Homo sapiens: one gene and its partner. The protein of the gene in region 1 binds, or shares a complex with, the protein of each later gene. Links are inferred from orthologs where the notes say so. Each region holds a gene or a part of one and is shown in the gene's direction. Other genes may lie near its edges. The genes, in order: F2RL3 and F2.

What was found.
Region 2: the proteins of F2RL3 (region 1) and F2 are in contact, whole or in part, in a crystal structure (PDB 2PV9), measured with the Mus musculus proteins. The link is inferred for Homo sapiens from one-to-one orthologs. Residues at the interface, in NP_032001.2 of Mus musculus: Asp54, Lys55, Pro56, Asn57, Pro58, Arg59, Gly60, Tyr61, Pro62, Gly63, Lys64, Cys66, Asn68, Asp69, Ser70; in NP_034298.1 of Mus musculus: Glu385, Leu386, Leu387, Cys388, His403, Tyr407, Trp410, Asp411, Arg428, Arg453, Glu454, Asn455, Leu456, Trp501, Gly502, Asn503, Trp508, Thr510, Gln516, Arg538, Ile539, Asp559, Ala560, Cys561, Glu562, Gly563, Asp564, Val585, Ser586, Trp587.

What each region holds. Positions count from the first base shown.
Region 1 is NC_000019.10:16,884,125-16,892,105, forward strand, and holds the start of F2RL3 (proteinase-activated receptor 4 preproprotein), read left to right. Parts: upstream 1-4,874; 5' UTR 4,875-5,065; coding exon 5,066-5,174; intron 5,175-5,448; coding exon 5,449-6,497; 3' UTR 6,498-7,981. UniProt on the Homo sapiens protein: Receptor for activated thrombin or trypsin coupled to G proteins that stimulate phosphoinositide hydrolysis. May play a role in platelets activation.
Region 2 is NC_000011.10:46,736,095-46,740,168, forward strand, and holds the end of F2 (prothrombin preproprotein), read left to right. Parts: intron 1-2,953; coding exon 2,954-3,024; intron 3,025-3,170; coding exon 3,171-3,314; 3' UTR 3,315-3,412; downstream 3,413-4,074. UniProt on the Homo sapiens protein: Thrombin, which cleaves bonds after Arg and Lys, converts fibrinogen to fibrin and activates factors V, VII, VIII, XIII, and, in complex with thrombomodulin, protein C. Functions in blood homeostasis, inflammation and wound healing.

The sequences.
Region 1 (7,981 bases):
GCGATTCTCCTGTCTCAGCCTCCTGAGTAACTGGGATTACTGGCACGCACCACCACGCCCAGCTAATTTTTGTATTTTTAGTAGAGACAGGGTTTCATCAAATTGGTCAAGCTGGTCTTGAACTCCCAACCTCAGGCGATCCGCCTGCCTCGGCCTCCCAAACTGCTGGGATTACAGGCATGAGCCACCGCACCCAGCCTGCCCATGTGGCTTCTAACTTGTTCCCTGACCCTGACCTTTTGCTGGAGGCAGTGAAGGCAGGAGAGAGTGGAGGCCACATCCAGGAGCTTCCAGGGACCTGAGGGGTTGGAGGACAATGAAATCCAGGACACGCCACTGACTTGCGCCTGTCTGCCAATTTTTCCCCATTTAAAAAAGTTATTTAAAGGGCCAGGTGCAGTGGCTTACACCTGTAATCCCAGCACTTTGGGAGGCTGAGGCAGGCGGCTCGCCTGAGGCCAGAAGTTCGAGGTGGTGAAACTCCACCTCTACTAAAAATACAAAAATTAGCCGGGTGTGGTGGCATGCACCTGTAATCCTAGCTACTCGGGAGGCTGAGGCAGGAGAATCACTTGCACCCTGGAGGTGGAGGTTGCAGTGAGCAGAGACTGTGTCACTGCACTCCAGCCTGAGCAACAGAGTGAGACTCTGTCTCCAAAAAAAAAAAAAAAAAAAAAAAAAGTTATTTGAATTGTGGTCAAGTTTATCTTAATGATTTTTAAGTGTTCAGCTCAGTGGCAGTAAGTACATTCATATTGTCACCATCCATCTCCAGAACTTTTTTTTTTTGGAGACAGAGTCTCGCTCTGTCACCAAGGCTAGAGGGCAGTGGCACAGTCTCTGCTCACTGCAACCTCTGCCTCCCAGGCGCAAGTGATCCTCCCACCTCAGCCTCTCGAGTAGCAGGGACCACAGGTGTATACTACCACACTCGGCTAATTTTTGTATTTTTTTGTAGAGATGGTTGGGGGGGTGTCTCACTTTGTGGCCCAGGCTGGCCTCGAACCCCTGACCTCAAGTGATCCACCTGCCTTGGCCTCCCAAAGTGCAGGGATTACAGGCGTGAACCACCTCACCCAGCCCAGAACTCTTCCATCTTGCAAAACTGAAACACTGTGGCCTTAAGCACTCACTCCCCAATCCCCCTCCCCCAGCCTCTGGCACCCCCCAACCCATTCTACTTCCTGTCTCTATGGAGGTGACCACTCCAGGGACCTCCCATGAGTGGAATGACTCAGGATTTGTCTTTCCGTGACCGGCTTATTTCCCTCAGCATAATGTCCTCAAGATTCATCCACAATGTAGCATATGTCAGAATTCCCTTACTTTTTAAGGCTGCCTTTTTTTTTTTTTTTTTTTTTTTTTTTGGCAGAGTTTCACTCTGTCACCCGGGTGGGAGTGCAGTGGTGCAATCACAGCTCACTGCAGCCTCGACCTCCTGGGCTCAAGCAATCTTCCCACCTCATTTTTTGATTTTTTGTAGAGACAAGATTTCACTATGTTGCCCAGGCTGGTCTTGAACTCCTGAGCCCAAGCGATCCCTCTACCTCGGCCTCCCAAAGCACTGGGATTACAGGCATGAGCCACCACTCTGAAACAGCCCGGCCTGGCTGTCTGCCCTTTTTAAGAAAATAAGATTTTGGCCGGGCGTGGTGGCTCACGCCTGTAATCCCAGCACTTCGGGAGGCTGAGGCGGGTGGATCACCTGAGGTCAGGAGTTTGAGACCTGCCTGGCCAACATGATGAAACCTCGTTTCTACCAAAAATACAAAAATTAGCCAGGCATGGTGGCGGGTGCCTATAATCCCAGCTGCTCGGGAGGCTGAAGCAGGAGAATCGCTTGAATCCAGGAAGCAGAGGTTGCAGTGAGCCGAAATGGCACCATTGCACCTTCAGCCTGGGCAACAAGAGCGAACCTCCATCTCTAAATAAAAAATATTTTGGCCAGGTGCAGTGGCTCATGCCTATAATCCTAGTGCTTTGGGAGGCTGAGGCAGGTGGGTCACCTGAGGTCAGGAGTTTGAGACCAGCCTGGCCAACACGACGAAACTCCGCCTCTACTAAAAATACACAAAATTAGCCGGGCATAGTGGCAGGCGCCTGTAATCCCTGCTGCTGGGGAGGCTGAGGCAGGAGAATTGCTTGAATCCAGGAAGCAGAGGTTGCAGTGAGCTGAGATTGCGCCATTGCACTCCAGCCTGGGCGACTGATCGAGACTCCATCTTAAAAAAAAAAAAAGTTTTTATGGAAAGTAACACAGTGCACAGAAAACTCCAACAGTACAAAACAGACACATGGTTTCCTCTCCTCCAAAGCTGTCGCGCCCAGCGTCCTCCGGGAAGTACCTGGGCAGTGTCGCCTGGGTACAGCTTGTGCCTGACAGGGGCAATGTCATCGTCACCTCTGCTTGCTGGGGTTCCCCCGACAGCCTGTGCTGCCGTGTTGTTCCCGGGGAGGGGCTGTTGGCGGGCACCTCCCTGCTTTGTGCTGCTGTGTGGATATCCTCCCAAGGACATCTTCCTGTGCGTGTGTCTGGCAGAAATTCCTAGACATGGAACCCTTGAGTATAAGGGCATGTGCGTCACTATGTTTTTTTTTTTTTTTTGAGACGCGTTTCACTCTTGTTGCCCAGGCTGGAGTGAGGCTGGAGTGCAATGATGCAATCTCGGCTCACTGCAACCTTTGCCTCCCATGTTCAAGTGATTCTCCTGCCTCGCCTCCCGAGCAGCTGGGATTACAGGCATATGTCACCATGCCTAGCTAATTTTGTATTTTTACTAGAGATGGGGTTTCTCCATGTTAGTCAGGCTGGTCTCGAACTCCCAACCTCAGGTGATCCACCCGCCTCTGCCTCCCAAAGTGCTGGGATTACAGGTGTGAGCCACTGTGCCTGGCTTTTTTTTTTTTTTTTTTTTTTTTTTGAGTCGGAGTCTCGCTCCGTTGCCCAGGCTGGAGTGCAGTGGTGTGATCTCAGCTCACTGTAACCCCTGCGTCCTGGGTTCAAGAGATTTTCCTGCCTCAGCCTCCTGAGGAGCTAGGACTACAGACGTGCGCCACCATGTCTGGCTAATTTTTGTATTTTTAGTAGAGACGGGTTTTCACCATGTTGGCCAGGACGGTCTCGATCTCTTGACCTCGTGATCCACCCACCTGGCCTCCCAAAGTGCTGGGATTACAGGCGTGAGCCATTGCGCCCGGTCGTGCATCACTATTTTGATGCATCATCTTCAAACCACCCTGCCCCAGCATCACTGGACTGCCGGTGTGCCCAGCCTCCCCTGCACAGCTTCCCACTCTGCTCACAGAGAAGACGGTGGAGGGGGGAGCCCAGGCGTGGGTTTTCCGTGTGCTGAGGGTGTCCTCAGCCACCTTTTTCCCCAAGTCATTGACGTGAAGCTGATTTTCTCATTGGTGGCCATGGAAACTGCCCAGAAATGGGAGCAGGGCCTCTGAGACCCTGCCCCAGCTAGACTCTCTCTCCAGGCTTCAGTGTCTCCTCCTGGAGCTGGGTGTTGACTCTGTCCAAGACTCTGCTCAGTCACTTCCTGGCTGATCCCCGAGTGCTCAAGTGTGTGATGAGATTAGGGCTCCCCCAGGCAGGAAACGGCCACATTGGACCCCTCCCTCCCCCATCCCTAGTTCATTTTATTTTCCCCAATCCTCATGGCTCCCAACTAGGCCCTCCTGCTCCCAGACCCCCCCAAGCCCTGTCCCCCATCCCCTGTAGCCCAGCGCTGAGCACACTGGGGCCAGAACCACCCATACCAGACTCCCCCAGGGCACGACGGGTTGAGGCCTCTCTGAGGCAGGGAGGGACAACACTGAGGGGCCTTGTGCAGAAGAGGGAAGGGGTACCCCCCCGAGCTTCAGTTTCTTCATCTGCCCGATGAGCCCCCATCCAATGGTACCCAGGAGTGGGGATGTGCTGGGGCTAGAGGAGGGAGGCCCCCTGGAGGCTGGCTTGGGGACCCTTCAACCTGGCCACCTCACTCAGGGTCAGAGGTCAGAGCAGGCGAGCCACACACCCCGAAGTCCCCCCGGTCCTCGGCAGGTGCTGTCCCCAGCATCACTGTCTCCCCTACAGATGCCCGTGTGTCCCCTGGGCAAGAGTGAAGTGAGGCACTCATACAGGGGTGCCTTGTGAGTATGGGGTCAGCCGAGGATGCTGAGGGGCTCTCGAGGTTCAGCCAGAGTCCCTGACGCTGGGCTCGTGCTGCTCTGGGGGTCTGAAGGGACCCTCGCTATTACCCTCTGGGAGGCGCCCATCCTTGGTTTTTTTTTTTTTTTTTGCCGAGTCTCGCTCTGTTGCCCAGGCTGGAGTGCAGTGGCAAGATCTCGGCTCACTGCAACCTCCACCTCCTGGGTTCAAGCAATTCTCCCACCTCAGCCTCCTGAGTAGCTGGGACCACAGGCATCTGCCACCAAGCCCAGCTAATTTTTGTATTTTTATGAGAGATGGGGTTTCTCCATGTTGGTCAGGCCGGTCTCAAACTCCCAACCTCAGGTGATTTGCCTGCCTTGGCCTCCCAAAATGTTGGGATTACAGCCGTGAGCCACCGTGCCTGGCCTAGCAGGGCTCTTCTTATCCTGCTCACCAGAGATAGGAAGTCGGGGGGTGACTTCAGGAAAGGCCCAGAGCCCGTGATGGGCGTGGGGATTGGGGTGAGGACAGGGCTGTCGTGAGAACAGTGGCTGCAGATGTGAGCGGCTGGCAGGAAGTGGCCACTTGAACCGCAGATGCTTCCTGGGCTGGTCAGGGACCGGGGGTGCTGGCTGCAGCTGGGACCCCCCCCCCTGCATCTTGCTGGCCTGGCACCTGGGTCCCTGGGAGGCGCCACACTGGATATAGCCACGTGGGGCAGCCCGGTCTCCATAACCCACACTCCAGTCCTCCCACGGGCTGGCTGGCAAGCGGCCCTGGTGGGTCTGCGGGGGCAGGGGCAGCCTTCCTGGTTTATCTCTACCGGCGCGATCTGCTCGTCCGCCTCGGCTCCAGAAGCTGGGGCTCAGGGTCCGGCGAGGCAGGAAGCCTGAGGCCACAGCCCAGAGCAGCCTGAGTGCAGTCATGTGGGGGCGACTGCTCCTGTGGCCCCTGGTGCTGGGGTTCAGCCTGTCTGGCGGCACCCAGACCCCCAGCGTCTACGACGAGAGCGGGAGCACCGGAGGTGGTGATGGTGAGTGGTCCTGGCTTTGGGGTGCAGAGATGGGGTTACATCAGAGATGGAGCTGGGGGCCCGGAGCTGGGGAGGGGGAGGCCGGGAAGTTGCGGGCTTCAGCCCAGCCCACTCTGTATCCCGTCTCTGACCCCATAGGGCTGGGCTATTCCCTTGAGTGTCATGTCCAGCTGTTTCCCACCAGGGCAGACCCCAGGCTCTGAGCACCTCCCTCCCTGCTGCTTCTCGTCACCTGCCGAGGCAGGGGCTGACTGAGGTCCCCTCTCTCTCCCAGACAGCACGCCCTCAATCCTGCCTGCCCCCCGCGGCTACCCAGGCCAAGTCTGTGCCAATGACAGTGACACCCTGGAGCTCCCGGACAGCTCACGGGCACTGCTTCTGGGCTGGGTGCCCACCAGGCTGGTGCCCGCCCTCTATGGGCTGGTCCTGGTGGTGGGGCTGCCGGCCAATGGGCTGGCGCTGTGGGTGCTGGCCACGCAGGCACCTCGGCTGCCCTCCACCATGCTGCTGATGAACCTCGCGGCTGCTGACCTCCTGCTGGCCCTGGCGCTGCCCCCGCGGATCGCCTACCACCTGCGTGGCCAGCGCTGGCCCTTCGGGGAGGCCGCCTGCCGCCTGGCCACGGCCGCACTCTATGGTCACATGTATGGCTCAGTGCTGCTGCTGGCCGCCGTCAGCCTGGATCGCTACCTGGCCCTGGTGCACCCGCTGCGGGCCCGCGCCCTGCGTGGCCGGCGCCTGGCCCTTGGACTCTGCATGGCTGCTTGGCTCATGGCGGCCGCCCTGGCACTGCCCCTGACACTGCAGCGGCAGACCTTCCGGCTGGCGCGCTCCGATCGCGTGCTCTGCCATGACGCGCTGCCCCTGGACGCACAGGCCTCCCACTGGCAACCGGCCTTCACCTGCCTGGCGCTGTTGGGCTGTTTCCTGCCCCTGCTGGCCATGCTGCTGTGCTACGGGGCCACCCTGCACACGCTGGCGGCCAGCGGCCGGCGCTACGGCCACGCGCTGAGGCTGACCGCAGTGGTGCTGGCCTCCGCCGTGGCCTTCTTCGTGCCCAGCAACCTGCTGCTGCTGCTGCATTACTCGGACCCGAGCCCCAGCGCCTGGGGCAACCTCTATGGTGCCTACGTGCCCAGCCTGGCGCTGAGCACCCTCAACAGCTGCGTGGATCCCTTCATCTACTACTACGTGTCGGCCGAGTTCAGGGACAAGGTGCGGGCAGGGCTCTTCCAACGGTCGCCGGGGGACACCGTGGCCTCCAAGGCCTCTGCGGAAGGGGGCAGCCGGGGCATGGGCACCCACTCCTCTTTGCTCCAGTGACACAAAGTGGGGAAGGCTGTACTGGGTCGAACAGGGTCCCTTCCCCCACTTCACGTCCTTCCTGGGACCTCAGAATGTGACCTTATTTGGAAATAGGGTTGTTACAACTGTCACTAGCGGAGGTCACTTTGGAGAAGGGTGGGCCTTACATCCAGTGTGGGTGGTGTCCTCATAAGATAAGGAGAGGCCAGGCCTGGTGGCTCACGCCTGTAATCCCAGCACTTTAAGAGGCCAAGGCGGATGGATCACTTGAGCCCAGGAGTTCAACACCAGCCTGAGCAACATGGTAAAACCCCATCTCTACCAAAAATACAAAAATTAGCTGGGCTTGGTGGCTGGCGCCTGTAATCCCAGCTACTCAGGAGACTGAGGCAGAAGGATCGCTTGAACCTGGGAGGCAGAGGTTGCAGTGAGCCGAGATTGCGCCACTGGACTCCAGCCTGCGTGACAGAGAGCCTGTCTCTAAATTAATTAATTAATTAATTTAATTCAATTTTAAAAAGACGAAAAGTGACGGCCAGGTGCAGTGGCTCACGCCTATAATCTCAGCACTCTGGGAGGCCAAGATGGAGGATTGCTTGAAGCCAGGAGTTTGGGACCAGCCTGGGCAACATAGGGGGATCCCATCTCTACACACAAAAAAATTTTTTAATGAACCAGGCATTGTGGCATGCGCCTATAGTCCCAGCCACTCAAGAGGCACAGGCGGGAGGATCACTTGAGCCTGGGAGGTTGTGGTTGCAGTGAGCTATGATTGTACCACTGCACTCCAGCCTGGGCAACAGAGCAAGACCTTGTCTCAAAAATAAACAAACTAAAATTAAAAAAAGAAGACGAGAGATAGTGGGTGTGGTGGCTCACACCTGCAATCCCAGCACTTTGGAAGGCCGAGGTGGGCAGATCATCTGAGGCCAGGAGTTCAAGACCAGCCTGGCTAACATGGTGAAATCCTATCTCTACCAAAAATACAAAAATTAGCCAGGCGTGGTGGTGGGCACCTGTACTGGGGAGGTGCCCACCCAGCTACTGGGGAGGCTGAGTCAGGAGAATCGCTTGAACCTGGGAGGCGGAGGTTGCGGTCAGCTGAGATGGTGCCACTGCACTCCAGCCTGGGCGAAAGAGCGACTCTGTCTCCAAAAAAAAGAGAAGAGGAGAGGACACAGAGACACACAGAGAAGAAAGCCATGTGGCGGCAGAGGCAGAGATGGGAGTGATGCGGACGGACACAAACTAAGGGATGCCACGATGCCAAGCACAGCCAACAGCCACCAGCAGCCAGGAGACAGGCCTGGGACGGGCTCTCCCTCACAGCCTCCAGAGGGAACCAGCCCTGCCACCACCTTGACCCTGGACTTCTGGCCTGCAGAACTGTGAGACAATAAACTCTCATTGTTTTAAGCTGCCTGGCATGTGGCACTTTGTCAGGGCAGCCCAGGAATCTGAAACAGGATCAAACTCTGCTTCCTGGGCCCTGCCAGCATCTC
Region 2 (4,074 bases), on another chromosome or scaffold:
TGGGAGGCTGAGGCAGGGGAATCACTTGAACCTGGGAGGAGGAGGTTGCAGTGAGCCGAGATGGTGCCACTGCACTCCAGCCTGGCAACAGAGCGAGACTCTATCTCAAAATCAATCAATCAATCAATCAATCTTTGAACTAGTGATTTGAGATTTCACCTTTATCACATTCTAGATTGTATCTTATTTTCATTTATTTATTTGAAATATAGACAAGTCTCCCTGTGCTGCCCAGGCTGATTTCAAACTCCTGGCTGGGCTCGAGCAAGTCTCCCGCCTTGGCCTCCCAAACTGCTGGGATTACAGACGTGAGCCACCATACCTGACCTAGGTTTTATTTTTTAGTTTTATTTTTTCCTGCATCCAGCTAATTTGATTTGATTTGTAGAGACGGGGTCTTGCTATGTTACCTAGGCTGGTCTCGAACTCCTGGGCTCAAGTGATCCTCCTGCCTTGGCCTCCCAAAGTGTTGGGATTACCAGCATGAGCCACGGTGCCCAGCCCCACGTTCTAGATTTCTATGGATAGAGTATGCTTAAGGATGAGTATGTTTCTGGATGTTCGACTCGGCTTTCCTGGTCTGTTGTCTGTCTGTGTACAGCGTCACATTGTTTTAATGATAGAGGCTTTAGCGTACATAGCTGGGAAGGCTAATGTTCTCTTTTAGTTTTTCTTTCCAGTGGTTTCCTGGCAATTCTTGCATGTTTGTTTTTCCATATGAACTTTAGTGTCAACATGCCTAGGTCTATAAAAAAGCTTGGTGGTAATTTTATTGGGATTATGACACTTCAACAAATTAACTGGGAGAATGGACATATTTTTGATGTTGAGTCATTTTATCCAAGGATAAGAAACGTTTTCCTATTTGCTCAAGTCTATTATTGTATCTTTCTTGACTGCTGCAATGTATTCTCTTATAATTTTTTCTATTGGTATCTTATTTTATGTATTTGTAATATCTTATTTTTCTTGAGTAAATTAGTTAATGGCTTGCCGGTTTTCTCAAAACAAATATCTAGGGATTTGATTTATGAAATTATTAGGCCTATTATTTTTCTTTTTTTTGAGATGGAGTCTCACTCTGTCGCCCAGGCTGGAGTGCAGTGGCGTGATCTCAGCTCACTGCAACCTCCACCTCCTGGGTTCAAGTGATTCTCCTGCCTCAGCCTCCCCAGTAGCTGGGGTTACAGGTGCACGCCACCATGCCCGGCTAATTTTTTTATATTTTTAGTAGAGACGGGGTTTCACCATGTTAGCCAGGCTGGTCTCGAACTCCTGACCTCATGATCCGACTGCCTCAGCCTCCCAAAGTGCTGGGATTACAGGTGTGAGCCACCGTGCCTGGCCTTTTTTTTTTTTTTTTTGAGACAGAGTCTTGCTCTGTCACCCAGGCTGGAGTGCAGTGGTGCGATCTCGGCTCACTGAAAGCTCCACCTCCCGGGTTCACGCCATCCTCCTGCCTCAGCCTCCCGAGTAGCTGGGACTACAGGTGTACACTGCCACGCCCAGCTAATTTTTTGTATTTAGTAGAGACAGGGTTTCACCGCGTTCGCCAGGATGGTCTCGATCTCCTGACCTTGTGATCCGCCTGCCTCAGCCTCCCAAAGTGCTGGTATTACGGGCGTGAGCCACTGCGCCCGGCCAGGCCTATTATTTTTCTATTGTGGTTCATTAATTTCTGCTTTTTTCTCTTAAAAAGTTTGCTTACGTTTTTGTCTGGTTTACTTTGCTGTTCTCTTGCTAGCTTTTTTTTTTTTCAGATAGGGTCTTGCTCTGTTGCCCAGGCTGGAGTGCAGTGGCACAGTCATAGCTCACTGCAGCCTTGAACTCCTGGGCTCAAGCAATCCTCTTCTTGCTTCAGCCTCCCACGTAGCTAGGATCAGAGGTACATGCCACCATGTCCGGCTAATTTTTTTTTTTCGAGACAGAGTCTTGTTCTGTCGCTCAGGCGGTAGTGCAGTGGTGCAATCCCGGCTCACTGCAACCTCCACCTCCACCTCCCAGGTTCAAGCAATTCTACCTCAGTCTCCTGAGTAGCTGGGATTATAGGCGCACACCAACATGTCTGGCTAATTTTTGTATTTTTAGTAGAGACAGGGTTTCACCACGTTGGCCAGGCTGGTCTTAAACTCCTGACTTCATGATCCGCCCGCCTTGGCCTCCCAAAGTGCTGAGATTACAGGTGTGAGCCACAGCACCTAGTGAAGGTGTGGTTTTTTTGTGTAGGTTTTACTGTTGTTAGTGTTGTTCTGTATTGTTTGTAGAGGATACGTGGGGAGATTTGGATAAAAGCAACTATCATTATTATCCTCATCAGACTTGTAGGTCTAACTTTTTAATTTTTTAATTTTTAATTTAAATTTTTTTCTTGGTCTTTTATCATTAATTAATTTTTTCGAGACAGGGTCTCACTCTGTTGCCCAGGCTGGAGTGTGGTGACATGATCACGGCTCACTGCAGCCTTAACCTCCCAGGCGCAAGTGATCCTCCTCTCTTAGCCTCCCGAGTAGCTGGGACTCCAGGCATGTGCCACCATGCCCAGCTAATTTTTTGTAGAGAGAGGGTTTTGCCATATTGCCCAGGCTGGTCTTGAACTGCTGAGCTCAAGTGATCCACCCGGCTTGGGCATGAGCCACCTCCCCTGGTCTGGTCCAACTTTTTAAAAGCATTATTCTGCCTGTTGGGTGGAGAATAGACTGTAGGTGGGCAAAGAATGAAGGAAACTAGTGGGTTCAGGAGCTCGAGCTAGAAGTGGTGAGAAGGGTTTGGATTTGGGGTCTATGCTGAAGGTAGAGCCGACAAGATTTGCTAGGATTGGATGGGTAGGGTGAGGAAGTGGGGACAGCAAGAATGACTGGAGGGGTAAGTGGACTCTCACCAGCTGTGTCTCGTGAAGGGGCGTGGCTGGGCTATGAGCTATGCTCCTGAGCACAGACGGCTGTTCTCTTTCAAGGTTACAAGCCTGATGAAGGGAAACGAGGGGATGCCTGTGAAGGTGACAGTGGGGGACCCTTTGTCATGAAGGTAAGCTTCTCTAAAGCCCAGGGCCTGGTGAACACATCTTCTGGGGGTGGGGAGAAACTCTAGTATCTAGAAACAGTTGCCTGGCAGGGGAATACTGATGTGACCTTGAACTTGACTCTATTGGAAACCTCATCTTTCTTCTTCAGAGCCCCTTTAACAACCGCTGGTATCAAATGGGCATCGTCTCATGGGGTGAAGGCTGTGACCGGGATGGGAAATATGGCTTCTACACACATGTGTTCCGCCTGAAGAAGTGGATACAGAAGGTCATTGATCAGTTTGGAGAGTAGGGGGCCACTCATATTCTGGGCTCCTGGAACCAATCCCGTGAAAGAATTATTTTTGTGTTTCTAAAACTATGGTTCCCAATAAAAGTGACTCTCAGCGAGCCTCAATGCTCCCAGTGCTATTCATGGGCAGCTCTCTGGGCTCAGGAAGAGCCAGTAATACTACTGGATAAAGAAGACTTAAGAATCCACCACCTGGTGCACGCTGGTAGTCCGAGCACTCGGGAGGCTGAGGTGGGAGGATCGCTTGAGCCCAGGAGGTGGAGGCTGCAGTGAGCCACTGCACCCCAGCCTGGGTGACAGAGTGAGACCCTGTCCCAAAAGAATCCACTATCTATCTTCAGAGCAGGGCCAGGTGAGAGGAAAGATGGCAGGTTGAATTTACAGGCATTAAAGATGTTCCACCCTCTGGGTTTTAATGGATTATCTCATTTAATCCTCACAAGAGGTAGGTGAGTAAACTGAGATTTGGAGAAGTACCTTGTCCAAAGTCACATGGCTAAGAAAGCTCAAAGTAGGACTTCAAATATAGAAAATATTGAGTGAGGACGGTGCTTTTTTAGTTAACTCCCTACATCTTCCCTTGTATCATTAAAATGATATCAGATCAGGTAGGGCATGGTGGCTCACACCTGTAATCTCAGCAATTTAGGAGACTAAGGTTGAGGCTAGGAATGCGAGATCAGTCTGGGCAATGTGGTGAGACCCCAAAAAATAAAATTAGCTAGGCGTGGTGGCATGTGCCTGTAGTCAAGGTTACTTG